Regions from separate parts of the Homo sapiens genome. Here all the other regions are reported to be linked to region 1. The links are microRNA targets in miRTarBase. Many come from high-throughput screens and were not tested one by one. Region 1 holds a microRNA gene; each other region holds the end of a gene's coding sequence.

The links. The annotated mature microRNA hsa-miR-3944-5p reads UGUGCAGCAGGCCAACCGAGA and lies in region 1 at 3,031-3,051, opposite strand. An mRNA with a match to its seed (bases 2 to 7 or 8) in the 3' UTR can be bound and repressed. Matches are read on the target gene's strand: a 7mer-m8 pairs with bases 2 to 8, a 7mer-A1 pairs with bases 2 to 7 and ends in A, and an 8mer does both.
Region 2: the mRNA of SCAMP2 is a reported target of hsa-miR-3944-5p. Seed matches in the 3' UTR shown: 7mer-m8 at 3,311-3,317.
Region 3: miRTarBase lists DEPDC1B as a target of hsa-miR-3944-5p. Seed matches in the 3' UTR shown: 8mer at 1,075-1,082.
Region 4: miRTarBase lists ENPP6 as a target of hsa-miR-3944-5p. The part of its 3' UTR that is shown has no 7-base or 8-base seed match.

Annotation. Positions count from the first base shown.
Region 1 is chr10:133,368,591-133,372,657 of GRCh38, forward strand. It overlaps MIR3944 (microRNA 3944), which reads right to left and starts at 3,073; the gene lies at 2,966-3,073. ECHS1 (enoyl-CoA hydratase, short chain 1) reads right to left here. Exons shown (of 8, transcript NM_004092.4): 2 at 1,970-2,167; 3 at 1,314-1,441; 4 at 333-432.
Region 2 is chr15:74,841,718-74,845,778 of GRCh38, forward strand. SCAMP2 (secretory carrier membrane protein 2) reads right to left here. Exons shown (of 9, transcript NM_005697.5): 8 at 3,756-3,876; 9 at 2,013-3,500. The coding sequence ends at 3,366. ULK3 (unc-51 like kinase 3) reads right to left here and starts at 1,439. Exons shown (of 16, transcript NM_001099436.4): 1 at 1,287-1,439; 2 at 563-703; 3 at 358-478. The coding sequence starts at 1,388. RefSeq lists enhancers at 433-958, 1,027-1,938 and a silencer at 1,201-1,920.
Region 3 is chr5:60,594,275-60,598,335 of GRCh38, reverse strand. It overlaps DEPDC1B (DEP domain containing 1B), which reads left to right. Exons shown (of 11, transcript NM_018369.3): 11 at 422-1,424. The coding sequence ends at 583. Among named protein-coding and RNA genes, the nearest start is that of DEPDC1B, 100 kb to the left of the region's middle.
Region 4 is chr4:184,087,317-184,091,377 of GRCh38, forward strand. It overlaps ENPP6 (ectonucleotide pyrophosphatase/phosphodiesterase 6), which reads right to left. Exons shown (of 8, transcript NM_153343.4): 8 at 1,390-4,061. The coding sequence ends at 3,861. The region is part of intron 1 of LOC124900826 (a long non-coding RNA gene); the gene reads left to right. Among named protein-coding and RNA genes, the nearest start is that of ENPP6, 130 kb to the right of the region's middle.

The DNA.
Region 1 (4,067 bases):
CCAGTGCCACCCAGGGTCACCATGTTCCCTCTCTGCCATGGACACGAATCACAAGCAAGAACTGTCATGGTTAGAAGCCAGCGTTACCCAGGACCAGCCTCTCCCAACACCATCAGATGTGGGCACAGTCACAGTCCCGGGACTCTAAGGCCCCCCCCAAGCTCTGTCACAACCACTCTAGCCTCCGTGGCTGTCCACAGAGGGACCACTGACCAGCCATGGGGCTGTCCATCCAGGGCCTCTGGTCAGATATGAGCTGTGGGCCCTGAGACACAGGCAGATTTTGAGTAATTACCTAAGGCATCTATGCCAGAGACAGTGTCACTCTTTACCTGGGATGGTTCCTATTAAGATCTCCGGCTGTGCAAACTGGGCCTTCTCACCGGCATAGATGATATCACACATCATGGCAAGCTCACAGCCCCCGCCAAACTGTAAAACATTCGGCATCAGGAGAGTCTTACCAGGGGAACCCAGTCAGAAATCACTCTGCTTGCTTATTCAAATTTTCCATTTAAAAGAAACAGTGTTGGGGGTATGACAAAGACTAACATGGTGGCACCAAACTAGATAATTGTTATGATAAGTTAACTACAGATGGTTGATGCTGTTTACCAGGGGCTGGCAAACATCCTGTAAAGGACCATGAGGGTCTTACAGGCTCTGCTGCCACGACTCAACTCTGCTGCTGTGGCCGAAATGCAGCCACAGAGACTAGGTGCACAGGTGGGTGTGGCTGTGCCGGGAAAACTCCATCCGCAGACCCCTGGCTTACACGGCAGGGAGTGTCATGAAATGATCACAATCCGCAGACCCCTGGTTTACACGGCAGGGAGCGTCATGAAATGATCACAATCCGCAGACCCCTGGCTTACACGGCAGGGAGCGTCATGAAATGATCACAATCCGCAGACCCCTGGCTTACACGGCAGGGAGCGTCATGAAATGATCACATTGCCTTCCCTATAGGCCAAGATCAGTCTCAGCACTTCAAATAGTCCCAGGACACAGAGCTTTCAAGGGGAGCAAAAGAAGCTAGTTTATAGATGTAGCCAAAGCCAACACCTCTCTTCCCCCACCCTGGAAGAGAGGCTTGCTGGGGAGAAGCTGTCAGGTGAACAGCCACGAAAAAAGCAGATGCCAGGAGGTGTCCTCTCCACACAGTTCCTGGCTCTTTAGCACCATGAGGCAGGAAAGGAGGCTGCTGGCCTGGGAACTAAAGGCCTCTTCAAAATAAAAATCTGTTATGCTGTGTATGCACAGCACGGTTCCTTCAACCACGAGAGGAGGAGACTCTTGGCAGCAACACTCACGGCATAGCCATTGACAGCAGCGATGACTGGCTTCTTGACCTGGGTGAGGTGGTCCCAGTGCTTCAAGAACTTGCTGGAGTAACAGTCCTGGAAACTCAGGTTCTGCATTTCCTTGATATCAGCTCCAGCTAGCAGGAGTGGAAAGGAGGTTCCAGTTACCAGAGAGCAGAGAGCCCACCCATCCTATATCTCTCAGACCAACAAGGAACTTCAGAGCACACCAGACACAGGCAGTGGGGTTGCTGGGCACGGCTGACACCAGGCCACGTGGACAGCTGTAGGGACGCTGTAATGCCAGCTAGAACAGAAGTCACGCAGAGGGGCCCTGAGGCAGGCAGCAGGTGCAAGGGAGGCGCCCACAGAGGCTAGGCATATTTGTCAGGGCATAAGCCCTTGACACACACAAAGCCTGACTGCCAAGGACCTAAACCCCTTTGAAGAAGCTGTTTTGCTGGTGGAGCACATGCAGCTCTCTGGCATACACAAAGCTGCTCATGCAAGCCGTTCCCATGACCGTCTTCACTCGATATTTGAGGAAGTCCCCAGTCGCATGCCTCTGCCATCACAGAGGCGCAAATCTGTCTGGAGGCTTCTCCCAAGGCCATACGTGCCTCCCACATCTGCCCAGACACAAAGGCCTCTGCTGCCGCGCGTACCTGCAAAGGCCTTATCCCCGCCGGTGAGGACAATGGCCCCCACGGCCGGGTCCTCCTCGAAGGTCTTCAGGGCCTGGTTGAGCTCGTCAATCAGGCCATCGCAAAGTGCATTGAGGGCCTTGGGGCGGTTCAGTTGGATCAACCCCACGGTGTTATTCTTCCCTCTTTTTTCTGCGATGATGTACTCAAAGTTAGCACCTGGAGCAAGAAGGCAAAAAGGGGTATCTATTCACACAGGTATCAAACTGGGGAGAGTGGGGGAAGGGATGTGGCCCCATCGGTGGATACAGTGTGACCCCAAGAGGCCCTCTGAGGGCTCCCTGCCGAGTCCTCAGTGGCTCCAGGTGTAGCTCTCAGCCACAAGGATAGATGGTAGCCTTGGTACCATTCTCTCTGCTTTCACATGTGTTTGAACATGTCCTAAAGAAAATCCCCGGGCCGGGCGCGGTGGCTCACGCCTGTAATCCCAGCAATTTGGGAGGCCGAAGCGGTCGAATCACAAGGTCAGGAGATCGAGACCATCCTGGCTAACACGGTGAAACGCCGTCTCTACCTAAAATACAAAAAATTAGTCGGGTGTTGTGGCGGGCGCCTGTAGTCCCAGCTACTGGGGAGGCTGAGGCAGGAGAGTGGCATGAACCCAGGAGGTGGAGCTTGCAGTGAGCTGAGATCATGCCACTGCACTCCAGCCTGGGTGACAGAGTGAGACTCCGTCTCAAAAAAAAAGAAAAGAAAAAAAGAAAAATCCCCAGCACAGAACACAGCCCACAGCCGCTTTCCTTCTCCTAATATGCCTTGGTCAGCTCTTCCCAGGACACCACTCTGGAGACAGCCCTGGACTCTGCTGAGACAAGGCACCAGGAAACACCTTCTTTCAACAAATGCCAACAGGTGAGGGGGTGTAAGGCAGCTCCTTGCACTTGGTACCGCCCCAGTGCCAAGACCTCTGGCCAACTGGACGCAGGGTGGGGGATGTGAAAATCCTGGGTGTTCCTGCAGCATTAAGATCAGGCACAGGTCCGGAGCAGCAGGCCAGCCCGAAAATGGGAGACGCAGGCGCTTCTCGGTTGGCCTGCTGCACAGGACCTGCGCCTGCTGGGTGGACAGCAAGGTGGGAAGGAGACAAAGGACAATGGCGTTCCAGGGGTGAGAAGGTGAACCTGAAAAGACAAAGGTAGCCTGTGTGTTGGATGCTTGCCTCCGTTAGTGGCAGAGCAGGGATCATAGTCCCTGTGCTATGGGTTTCTTTTTTTTGGAGACCGAGTCTCACTCTATTGCCCAGGCTGGAGTGCAGTGGCGCAATCTTGGCTCACTGCGACCTCTGCCTACAGGGTTCAGGTGATTCTCCTGCCTCAGCCTCCCGAGTAGCTGGGACTACGGTCACACACCACCACACCTGGCTAATTTTTGTATTTTTAGTAGACATGGGGTTTCACCATGTTGGCCAAGGTGGTCTTGATGACCTCAGGTGATCCACCTGCCTCAGCCTCCCAAAGTGCTGGGATTATAGGCATTAGCCACTGTGCCCCGCCGTATCCTGTGGGTTTCTAGGGGTAACTGGAAGATCACAGGTGAAGTGTCTGGCAGCAGTGCCCGCCATGCAAGATCCAGGAAAGGGCTGCTGTCAGGGTGGAGAAGCCGAAGGCCAAGGAGAGCATGGAGATGAAACCAACACAACTCAGTGGTCCACTGCTACACAGGGTGAGGGAGGAAGAGGAAGCAAGAGTTCTTCCCCAGCCCAAGGCATGGCCCAAGATTCCTCAGATACTAGAGCCGGTGATGGCCGCTCATGAGTGGGGCCCCGGGTGAGCCACGAGGGAGGAAGAGGGCAGCCCCCTGTGGCTGGGGAGGAGGTGTCAGCTTTTCCCTTAGGACCCTCTGAGGGGTGGCCCTGGTCAGGAGGCACCCAGGACAAAATGCACCTGCATCTCCTGTTCTCGGGCTGGCCGGCTGCACAGGAGCTACGCCTGCTCTTAGAGCCGAGGGAACACCCCGGATTTTTACAACCCCCACCCTGCGCCCAGTTGGCCAGAGGTCTTGGCACTGGGGCAGTACCAGCCAGCCGCCGGGCCTCCCGCAGGACGTGGCCTGGTGAGAG
Region 2 (4,061 bases), not on the chromosome of region 1:
CACAAGTCTCCCCACCTCTCAGAAGCTTCTCTGGATGCCCCAGCCCTTGAGATCCTGCTCTTTTCCTTGGCACAGCACTTGAGTCCTACCTACAGGACTCTGGAATGTTCTACAAGGTCCTTATATTATGTTCTATGTATGGAAGCCTGAACACCCCACAGAGGGGTTACCCCCTCATCTCTCCCACAGCGTCCTTGAGCAAGGGTTGAGTGTATGAGATAAACAGGACCATAAAATTTCAGGCTGTGCAGGAGGCAGCTGCAATGCGTGCCAAGGCTCTAAGCCTGGGGGAGGGGTGGGATGGTGGGGGGCAGAGAACAAGGGACAGAGTGTCAGGCTGGTGTCACAGGCCTTTACCTAATTGCTGCATGAAGACACGCGCCACCTTCTCAGGCAGAATCCTGCGGGTATGGATGAAGCGAGACAGGTCGCCCCCTGCGCAAAACTCCATGATGAGGTAGATATTGTCACTGTCCCACTGTGTTTAGAGGCAGAGAGGCGGCCTGAAGAGAGTGTCCCTTCTCCAGCTCCCTTTGGCAGCGGCCCCGCCCCAGGCTCACACCTGAAAGTCTTTCAGCTGCACAATGTGGGGATGTCGAATGCCCTTGAGGATCTCAATCTCCGTGAGGAGGTTCTCCACCGATGCCTTGTTCAGACTTTTCTTGGCTACACACTTTATGGCTACCACTTCACGAGTGTCCTTCTGCGAGACAGGAGATTTGGGGACTCTGCCTTGAGGGGGCCAGGACCCTTGTCTGACTGGAAAGGCTCTATCTGGTTCCCTCTGTTCCCCCACCCCGCCCCTCCCCGGGTCTACCTACTGCACACCAGCACCGGGCTTCCCAGCTTTCCCTTGTGAGGCCAGTGAGGAATGCTGATTCTGGAATCCTGGCTTCCCGACACAGCCTCAGCCTGGTCTTCTCCAACCCTCGGCTAGCTGATCCATTTCTTTGCATTCTGGAGTGCTCCCGGCAGAGGCATGTCACTCAGGGTTCTAGAACCGCCCACTCTGCCTCCCAACTGGCTCCAGTCCCAGACTCCTCCCAGCCCACCAGGTAACCTGTTTTGAGCCTGTTCTTCAGCCACTGACCCTGCAGGTGGGTGCAGGTGCGCTCTTTAAGACCTAAGCGTGGCAGTCGGCTCCAACCTCCGCCGAGGGTCAGCTGGGGCGAGGCCGGCCTCCCGCCCCTAACTATTCCCACACTGTCGCTAACCTCTCAGAGTCTCCCCGGCCGGCACCAGCCGAGCTAGCTCGGGCGGGCACGGGGCCATCGGCCGGCACCCACCTTGGCGTAGGCCTTGTACACCGTGGCGTACGTGCCGCTGCCCAGGCGCTCGGTGAGGATGAAGCCGTCCAGGCGCGGGGGACCCCAGCCGGGCCCCGCCATTCCGGCCGCCTGCGCCCGCGCGGGCGCTTCCTCGCTGCGGGCGGCGGTTCCGGCGGGTTGCGGGGCGGGCCGAGCACTGGGTGGCTCCACGCTGCCCCCAGCGCCGCCCGCCGGAAATGCAGCGCGCATCGGGGACGCGGATCCGCCCGGCTCCCGGCGCCCCTCCCCTGTCTCTGGGCCTCGCCGGGTCACGCGCCCCGCCAGTTCCTGCAGGGCCCACGTGGGGATACGGAGGCCCCGCGAGCCTAGAAGTTAACAACGGAGGACGGCCGGCGTGGTCTCCGGGGACTCCTAGCGGGCGCAGAGGCGTCTAGAGATCGCCCACGTGAGGGCGCGGGCGGCGGAGCGGGCGTGTGTGGGGGCGACGGCGTCCGGGAGGCTCCCAGGGCCCCTCCCCAGGACCCGCAGCTCTGAAAGGAGAGCTACTGGCACGAGAAGGCGCCTTTGGAAGAGGCCGCGTTGGCTTCCCAGGCCTCCCAGCTGCTTTTCACTTTTCTGAGGAAGGGCCTTGACCTATTTATTGCATCTTAACTGTCCCCGCTCTCCAATCTTAGCAGCGGCGCCCAGCCCCTAATCCTGTGGGCTGCCCCGTCCTCCCAAGTCCACCAGACATGTGGACCCGTGTTGTCTGAAAATGTTTTTATTTTTACTTAAGCACAAAAATTGAGACGTAACATATACATTTGTACATAGAGGGGAAAAAATACCAGAAAGGAGTTCATAAAACCCCAGCCGCTGCCAGTATCATTCAGTGGCTGGGGCCTGCGGCTGTCTCGGGCCCAGAGCCGGAGGCTAGTTTTGTGGGAAGGCACCCCAGTCCACACACCCACTCGGCAGCCTCGAGGGACAGGGTGCTGGTTTTAAGGGTGGACTCCTACGTGTCCCATCACAGTGACACACCCCCCAGGGTGTGAACCAGACTCCACTGGGTATTAGGGGGCCCTCCGAGAGATGGCTTATCAGTCCCTGCTGAGGGATGCGGTTCTGGACTGGCTGGCCCTGCCCTTCCTGAAAGTCTGGATGCTGCTGATGGGGAGCATGGGCGGGGCAGGTGGCATCTGAGGCAGAGACAAAGGCAGCCGTCCCTCGGTTCGGGGAGGGGGGGGGGTAGTCACAGCAAACAGGGCCAAACCAACCACACCAGGACAGGCAGACCCCACCCTCCTAGAAGACGCTGGACGCTAGGCAGGACAGCTTGGGGTCAGTGTCCTTGGTCCCTTCCAGTCCCCAAATCCCAACCAACGGCATTGTACATTCAGAAAGTCTGAAGAGAGTAAGGCTCAGCAAGGGGAGGGCTCCAGAGGGCTCAAAGTGCCATCCCCTGCAGGAGGGTGCAGGGGGATAAAGGGCTATTAATCCGTTTCTCAGGAACACGAGGCAGGGAAGAGCTTAAGGCAACCAGCCTTCTCTGGATCCGTTTATGAGGCAGAGAAGAGCTTGAGGCAACCAGCCTTCTCTGGAAGCCTGGAGACCACTGGAGTGACCTGGGGAACAGATCTGTCCACCAGAACCTGTGAGAGGCTTATTCCCAGCCCAGGCAGGAAGGACTGGGCTGTGTCTAAGAAGCCAGATTCAGGCCAGGCCTGCAGGGTGGGGGAGTCAAGGCCCAGGACCCTGGCAGAAAGCTCCAGCTGGGATGGGCCCAGGTCAGCCTGTGATCCCAACTGTGTGGGGGTGTCTGTGTGTGCACAGGACGAAGAGAACTTCAGTCCCACTGCTTCCAGAGACAAAAGAATCCTACCAAACCATCACCAGAGAAGGAAAGAGAGCTTTGTTTTTTTTTGTACATAGAGGGGGAAAAAATTCCCTGTCCCTCCCGTTCCAGGGAGAGCTGGTCGCTGAGGGAGGAGGAAGAGCCACGGCAAGAACCCTGCCAGGTCTGTGCTGGGCACAACCACCACCACATAAGGCACCCACGGAAAGTGCAGCTCAGAAGGCAGGCGAGAGAAAGGCTGAGGGGGAGAGAAGAGAGGAGGACTAATTCCCCTGGAAGGCTCCTTGGGCAGCAGATGAAGCAGCTCTGTGGAAGGTTCTGCTGCTGAAGATGCCCTGGGAAAACTCCTCCTGGGCCTGCTGGAAGCTGGCCCCTGTCCGTCGGTAGAGGGAGTGCACCTGGCGAAGAGGGGTGGGGTGAGAGAAGCCTGTCCTTTGGGCCCACCAGGAAGCCAGCCATCCAGGTTATACTCCCAAAGGGGTCACCAGAAGCCTGGCACTGCCTGACCCCCCACCCAGATCCCTGGAGAAAGGTACTGGACCTTTGGGGGCCTAGGATGCCCAACTGCAGTGGTGAAAAACATCTCGTGGCAAGGGCAGGAAACGGTTGCCTGCCTCCTCCCATTTGCTGTCAGCCCTGCCCACACCACTCACCCGCTGCAGGAGGAAGACTGAGAGCACGGCACAGAGGGTGAAGAAGCCAGCCACCACCATCATGATGACTGATATGGCCAGGGAATGATTATCCAGTGTAGACAGGGCTGCAATCCAACCGCTATAAAGGGAAGAAGAGGCCAGAGGGAGCAAAGTGGGAGTGGGCTCCAAAAGTCAGCATAAGGGGCTCTTCTCCAAGTGGCTGCTGTGTCCTGACCATCACCTTGGCATCTCCCCACAGCACAGGGAGCCCTGTGAGCCAGAAGCCCTTGGCCTGTGAGGCCAGACCTCCGTGAAGGCTGACAG
Region 3 (4,061 bases), not on the chromosome of region 1:
TTTAAGCTTTTCACAAAGTAATATACACCAGAATATTCCCTCTTCCATTTGAGCAGAAGCTGGTGGGGCTGAGTTGGAGAAACAGAGAAATGATGAAATGTAATTGGGCCAAAATTTTATTTAACTGTGTAGAACAGAAGTTATTTTGAAGTCAGAGTTACTTGTGAATATATAAAAAGTGAGGTCTATTTATAGTTGGCAGTGGGGGGAATTTTCAGAAACATGATTAAAAGGGGAACTTATTTGAAGCTTAGATCAAAGGAAAGATGGATTAGCTCTATAGAAATTGGAATGAAATGTTTTAACAAAAATAAACAAAAACAGGAAAATACAGGCTCAGAAACTCTTAAAATTTGGCTGCCAAATTTTATTGGCTTTTATGTGTCTTTTTTTACTCTTCTTGGACCATTCATTTTTTTAGTTTCAGAAATCCTATCCTGAAGTCTATCAAGAACGATTTCCTACACCAGAAAGTGCAGCACTTCTGTTTCCTGAAAAACCCAAACCGAAACCACAGCTGCTAATGTGGGCACTAAAGAAGCCTTTCCAACCATTTCAAAGAACTAGAAGTTTTCGAATGTAATAATACTTCCACAGCAACAGGTGCTAGAGACCACTGTTGTTGTTTTGAGTGAATGGTGGTTAGGAGAAAGACTTTGGTGGTGGAAGAAAGAAAAGCATAAAACAAAGACTACTGAAATATAGATAAAGATTGCCTTAGTTTTTAAAAATGTTTGGCCATTAGTATTTTTATAAAACTCAATGCTAGTTTTAAAGTGTATAAATTGGTTAAAATTTATGAGTCAAATATATAGTGATAATGTTAACATGTTTGTAATTGCTACAGAATTTAAGGGTATTTTTATCTCTGTGCTTTCTTTTTCATGGTGTTTATTAAATAATTGTGTATATACATCCTAGCTACTGATATCTTTATTATAGCCTTAAGACTTAATTTTAAGTCTTAAAAATAGCGTGTATACTTGAATAAGAAAGACACTGGGTACTGTTACTGTGATGCTATTGACTTAGTAGCCAATTATCATTTCTCCTGTATAAATTCCAGTTTTTATTGCTGCACATAAATTTTTTAATGTCTTATATTGTGATAGCTATGTCTTTTATTGCAGATTTATTGGATGTTATGACAGATTTTACTAAAGCTAGTGTTTTTATAACATATATATTAGTTGATGTTTACCTATAAGTGGAGTAGATTTTCATCTGCCTGCAATGGTATAATTTCAGTCTTAGCTAAAAATGGAAAGTTGAACTGGATAAATTCTTTGGGTACCCTTAGACCTCTGATTCTAAGTCAAATGCAAATGGGTTAAATAAAATGAGACTACTTCCTTTATAAATATATTTTCATCCTTTTGAAAGTAAGTGAAATGTAAATAAACTTATTTTTTTTAAAAATGCCATACCTCGTGTTTCTTTTTTGGCATTTATTTAGATCAGTTAGAGAGCATCCTCAAATGCCTTTGCCAATGGTCTTCATCAGTCATTTATTTCTATGAGAAAATGAAAAGTAAGATTTGGGCTTTTGTACTGACTGGTCTTTAGGTGAGCACTTTGCCAATTTTTTAGCATTGCTTTGTCCTTTTGTAAAATTGTGGTGCACTTGGATTATGGAGCATCTGAAAGTCTTCCTCTGAGCGCAATTACCCAGAAAGCTGAGAGCAACACCCACTAATTGGCTTACAGTACTCCTTGGACTGATTTTTCCTTGCACTTAAGATTTGCTCCTGTTCTCTTGTAGCAAAATACCTCCTACATCTGATGCAGATTTTGCTTTTAAAAATGGACCAAAGTATTCCTATTGGTTTGGGTACCACCTTACATTCCAAATACATAATGTAATGGGAGATTTTTAGTGTTTCAGGATTCATTCTCAGACTTTGGCATTCTGTTTAGAGCCAAGAATAATTCTTCTTTCTGCTCTATTTTCACTCCGAGGTAGAGTTTATTTTTCAGAATCTCTTTTCCTGTTGCTTGTCTTTGGAAGTATATGTGGTTGTTTTCTTTCCTTTTTTTTTTAAGATTACTTTTTTAAAAAAATATAACATATTTATGGAGAGATCATAAAACATAAGCACCAATTAAGTGTGAAATTGATGAATAGATAATAGCAGTTATCCAAAGTGGTTGTCCCAATTAACGCTCCCATTAACAGTGTATGAGAACTCCTTTTGTTTAATATCCTCACCGAAACTTGCTATCGTCAGAGTTTGAAATGTTGTCAATGTGGTGGTTATTAATAGTGTCTGATTATGGTTTTATTTTGCATTTCCATGATTATTAATATGGCTGAACATTTTTTTCCATTTTTTTGACTTTTTCGTCTTTGTACAAATTTTGGTATCAGATTGTCAAGCCTGCATACACACACACACACATGCAGAGACACACACTCACCCTGTTGAGTTTTTTTTTTTAATTTTGATTGTATTATATGTATAAATCAATTTGCAGAGAATTGCTGTCTACAATATTAGGTCTTCTAGTCCATGACCATGGTTTACCTTTCCATTTTATTTGAAATAAATGAGAAAAAAAGTTGCTTTTTTCTGTGAAGATTTACAAATCTTTTGTTAGATTTGTTCCCAAGTATTTGATACTTTAAAAAAAGTATCAAAATTTTCAAAGACTGTAGTACCCATTTCCTGTTTCAACAGTTACTCAGCTGATCAATGTTGACGTTTAATTCTTTTGTAAATGCTGGTGTTGTAAATTTCCTTATAGTGTTTGTTGCTTCTGTATGGTATAAAACTGATTTTTCCTGAGTTTTGTTTACAGTGAACCTTGCTAGACTTGTTAATTCTAAACATTTAGTATGATTCTTTGGCATTGTCTACGTATTAGGAAAAAAACAGCTTTTGCTTTTCCGTTCCATGGTAGACAGCATCTATATTGTCCTCAGTGATCCTTGCCTCCTGGTATTTAATGCCTTGTGTAATTTCCTGTCCTTGAGTGTGGGTGGAGCTAAAATGACACATTTCTAAATAATAGAATATATCATCAGTGATGGGGTATCACTTCTCAGATTAGATTCCAAAACTCTGGCTTCCATCTTGCTTGTCTTCCTTCTTATTCTCTCCCTGGCTTGCTCTGAGGAAAGCCAGCTGTCATGTTGTGAGCTGCCCTTTCAGAGGCCCACCAGGCAAGGAACTGATGTCTCTGGCCAACAGCCAGCGTGGACATGAAGCCTGCCAACAGCTTTACGAGTGATCTTGGAAGTGGATCTTCCCTTGGTCAAACCTTGAGGTGACTCTACCCTAGCTGACACCTTGATTGGAGACTTTTGAGAAACTCTAAGCCAGAGGACTTAGCAAAGCTGTGCCTGGATTCCTTATTCACAGAAACTGTGATATAATAAATGTTTATTGTTTTAACCCACTTAGTTGAAGAATAACTTGTTATAAAGTGACCTAGATACAATATACTTTCCAATCTCCATACCCTTCCCTCCCTTCCCTTCCGTCCCTTCCCTCCCTTCTCTCCCTTCCCTTCCCTTCCTTTCCTCCCTTCCCTCCCTTCCCTCCCTTCCTTTCCTTCTTTTCTTTCCTTTCCTTCCTTTCCTTCCTTCCTTTCCCTGGCTCCCTCCATCCTTTCCTTCTTTTTTGTCTCAGGACACTGGAGATCTTCAGTACAGCAGTTCCCTGGTTCCCATTTATCTGCTGTTTCACTTTGTACAGTTTCAGTAAGCCACGCTCAACCACAGTCAGAAAATATTAAATGGAAATTTCCAGAAATAAACAAGTTTTAAATTGTGTGCTGTTCTTATAGCATGATGAAATCTTGGACTGTCCTGCTTTGTCCACTCTGAAAATGACTTATCCCTTTGTTTCATGGATCCATGCCTGGTAGACCAGGTACATTGTTAATGAGCAGTAATATTTTGAAAGGAATCTTTTTTTTTTTTTTTTTTTTTTTGAGCAGCAGATCTCAATAGTGGGCTTAAAATATTGAGTAAACTATGCTGTAAACAGATGTACTGTTATCCAGGCTTTGCAGAGCACAGGCAGAGTAGATATAGTGTATTTTTTAAGGGCCCAAGG
Region 4 (4,061 bases), not on the chromosome of region 1:
CCACATCTTCTTTATCCAATCTGTCATTGATGGACATGTGGGTTGGTTCTAAGTCTTTGACATTGTAAATAGTGCTGCAATAAACCTATGTGTGTATGTGTCTTTATAGTAGAATGATTTATAATCTTTTGGGTATATACCCGGTAATGGGATTGCTGGGCCAAATGGTATTTCTGGTTCTAGATCCTTGAGGAATTGCCACATTGTCTTCCACAATGGTTGAACTAATTTACAGTCCCACCATCAGTGTAAAAGCATTTTATTTCTCCACAGCCTCGCCAGCATCTATTGTTTCCTGACTTTTTAATAATCGTCCAAAAAGAGCCCGTATAGCCAAGACAATTGTAAGCAAAAAGAACAAAGCTGGAGGTATCATGCTATCTGACTTGAAACTATATTACAAGGCTACAGTAACCAAAACAGCATGGTACTGGTACCAAAACAGATATATAGACCAATGGAACAGAACAGAGACCTCAGAAATAACACTGCACATCTACAACCATCTGATCTTCAACAGAGCTGACAAAAACATGCCATGGGGAAAGATTCCCTACTTAATAAATTATGCTGAGAAAACTGGCTAGCCATGTGCAGAAAGCTGAAACTGGATCCCTTCCTTACACCTTATGCAAAAATTAACTCAAGATAGATTAAAGACTTAAAGGTAAAACCAAAACCATAAAAACCCTAGAAGAAAACCCAGGCAATACCATTCAGGACATAGGCATGGGCAAAAACCTCATGACTAAAACACCAAAAGCAATGGCAACAAAACCTAAAATTGACAAATGAGATCTAATTAAACTAAAGAGCTTCTGCACAGCAAAAGAAATTATCATCAGAGTGAACAGGCAACCTACAGAATGGAAGAAAATTTCTACAATCTACCTATCTGACAAAGGTCTAATATCAGAATCTACAAGGAACGTAAACAAATTTACAAGAAAAAACAACACCATCAAAAACTGGGCAAAGGATATGAACAGACACTTCTCAAAAGAAGACACTTATGAAGCCAAGAAGCATATGAAAAAAAGTTCATTATCACTGTTCATTAGAGAACTGCAAATCAAAACCGCAATGAGATACCATCTCATGCCAGTCAGAATGGCGATTATTAAAAAGTCATCTCATCTTTAATCTGAGGCTCATTCCTTTCATTTGTCCTCGGTAGACCAACCCAATTATCTTTGTCCTGGAATCAGCCGTGAAGTTGAAAAGTAATCCAGGAGACAAAGTGTCTATACATATTCCTAGCAGATTTTAGTCCTATGGAAAAAAATACATTTAGAGAAAGTGGAATTTTCCTAAGGAGAACAATGTAATTTTAAAACAAAAATAAAAGGGAACAAATTTTCACCAAATAATTAAGCCATAAAAAATATATGCATTATTTAAGTAAAAAGCTTTATTTTTTTCCCTCAGTGTCTGAATCTTCTTTATTGTTTACCAGGATTCATGATTCCTTTTGTAACTTGTTCTCAGTCATTTATTCAGTTGAGTAATTACACTTTGTCAGACAAATATCTAAAGTTTTATTATGTAACTTGCAGATTTTCAGGACGAGTGAAGGAGGAAAATGGCAGAAGAGTTCAGGAAAGACAAAAATGCAAGACTGTGTCTAAGTTTATGCCTCTCTTGAGTTTGATGATCCAATTTTAATTTAATCATTTGAGTATCTCTTAGGGATTCTTCCTCCACAGTGGAGGAAAGTGGGCTCTACTGAATTCATTGGAACACCGTCCTTTAAGGAGAAAGAAACTTTGAACAATAGACGTCTTTTTCAACAACTACTGCCAATGTTTTGAAAGTTGTCATTTGTTTTCAGCTAGATAACAAAGGCTGAAGAGTTGCCTTCTTTCCAATTGATCCGATGGTTTACTGGCGCTTTTAAAACACATTACATAAATCTTTAGAAATCTTTTGTGAAGGTAAATTCAGTATTTTTAAGCAGTGATCCTTTGCTCTCATGATTCATGGCATGGAGACAGCACCCAGCTTTCCTGAATCAAGGTGAACGTTGATATTCAGTTTTCAAGGTAACACACCATATAAGGCCTCCATCGTCCTGAGGAGACCTGATATATTGCCTTTTCCTGACAAAAAGTCTCACTTGCAGATGTACCTCAATTAGTGCAAACTTTTTTTTTCTTTCTATTTTTTGGGGGGGGTGGAGGATGGGGTCTTGCTCTGTTGCCCAGGCTGGAGTGCAGTGGTGTGATCAAAGCTCACTGCAGCCTTGACCTCCTGGGCTCAAATGATTCTCCTGCCTCAGCCTCCCAAGTAGCTGAGACCACAGGCATGTGCCACCATGCCTGGCTAATTTTTTAAAAATCTTTTATGTTTTGTAGAGATGGGGGTCGCCCTGTGTTGCCCAAGTTAGTCTGGAACTCCTGGCCTCAAGGGTTCGTTTGTCCCTCCTTGGCCTCCGAAAGTGTTGGGATTATAGGTGTGAGCCACCATGCCCAGCCCAAACTCATTTTTTAATGCAGTGATAGTGTATGCAAGTATATATATGTATATAGATATAAATGATCATGTAAAAAGGAGTTATTTCTTGTGTTACAATTTCTCCTATAGCAAACACAGATGACTAAGCTAAAAATATTTCAACTCAGGCTCAGTGGCTCTTCTCAAAGGTATCAAAAGAACTTAGGTCTCAAAGGTGGTACTTTGGCCAAACTGTTTCCTAATCAAACGACCAGTTAGTTGGTCAGTGACTGGGACTCTGCTCCATCATGCTCTCTCCATTCTCCACCCAGCACCATTTTCTTTGGAATTCTATGCCACTCAAAGACTGTTGTTGAGCAAGCCATGCTGCAGGGGTACTGGTGTCCAGGATTAAGGCTTAGTGCATCACCTCTCTGAGCAACCCACCGAGATCCTTGCTGATGCCTCCACATTCTCATCAGTGAGCCAGCCCTTTCCCAGGCTATAATGTCATGTCAGGGATTGCTCTTGTCTGCACCCTATATTGGGAGCCACAGAGTGGCATGTCTGAGGAAGCCTTTGCACAGGTGAACGGACAGGGAAGGCAGGCAGGCCATCCATTTGTCCATCAATATGCAGGGCCTGCTATGTGCCGGGCTTCATGCCACGATACACTATGTGTGATAAGTCTCACAGAAGCCCATGTCCATCAGAAGCTTTTCTGCTCCTCAAGGCAAGAGAGAAATTTTCGTGCACTCAGACTTTGGGAGGGCACTCATGTCTTTCACCTTGTTCTATGAGTTCTCCAATCCTTAGTGATTTATTTATTTTTTGATTGATTGGTGATCCATGCTAAGTTACGTCCTTTCTGGAGCTCAGTATAAGATGAAAAAATTCCATGAGCTGGGTCAGAAATAGACAGTAGCTTTTGCTTTCATGTAGACCTCCTTTTATCAGGGATGGAAGGAACAGTACAGGATTGTGGCCACAGACACTGAGGATGGCTCCTGGGTGTGGACAGGGCACAGACAAGGGCCTGGTCTGAGGGGGTCCTTTGTGCAAGGTGGGACAGAGAGGGGCCCAGAGCCACGTCTGTCTGCAATAACCACTCCAAGTTTGGTTGCTGCAGGAGCAGGTCCCTGCTCAGAGAGTTCATCCTGAGTAACGTGAAAAGAAAGGAGAAAATGACATATAACTGCACAAATGGAAAGCTAGGATTTTCCTACCTTCTGGAAAAACAAGGTTTGTATCTTTTTTAACAAGTAGGAACTTTTATGTATAGAATTATCCAAGAATAATGTATTTACAATGTGCATGGTCTTGATTGTGTTAATGAAGCTATTATTCACACATAAAATGAAAATCATCTGGCTTTGGAGGCCCACTTTGCTGATGGTGTTTTTTTCTGAGACAAGCAATATGATCAGTTATGCAAGCAGGAAGAGAAGAATCAGTGCCAGGGCACAGTGGCTGGGCCAGACAGGCGGGGCAGTGCTGGCGCGGCCCTTCAGCATGCACATCACCCTGGACCAGGATCCGTTGTTGGGCAGCGGGGTGATGCCCACCACATTGCACATGACATTGTAGACGTCCACCGACCTGATAGGAGCAGCTCTGAAGTTGGATTT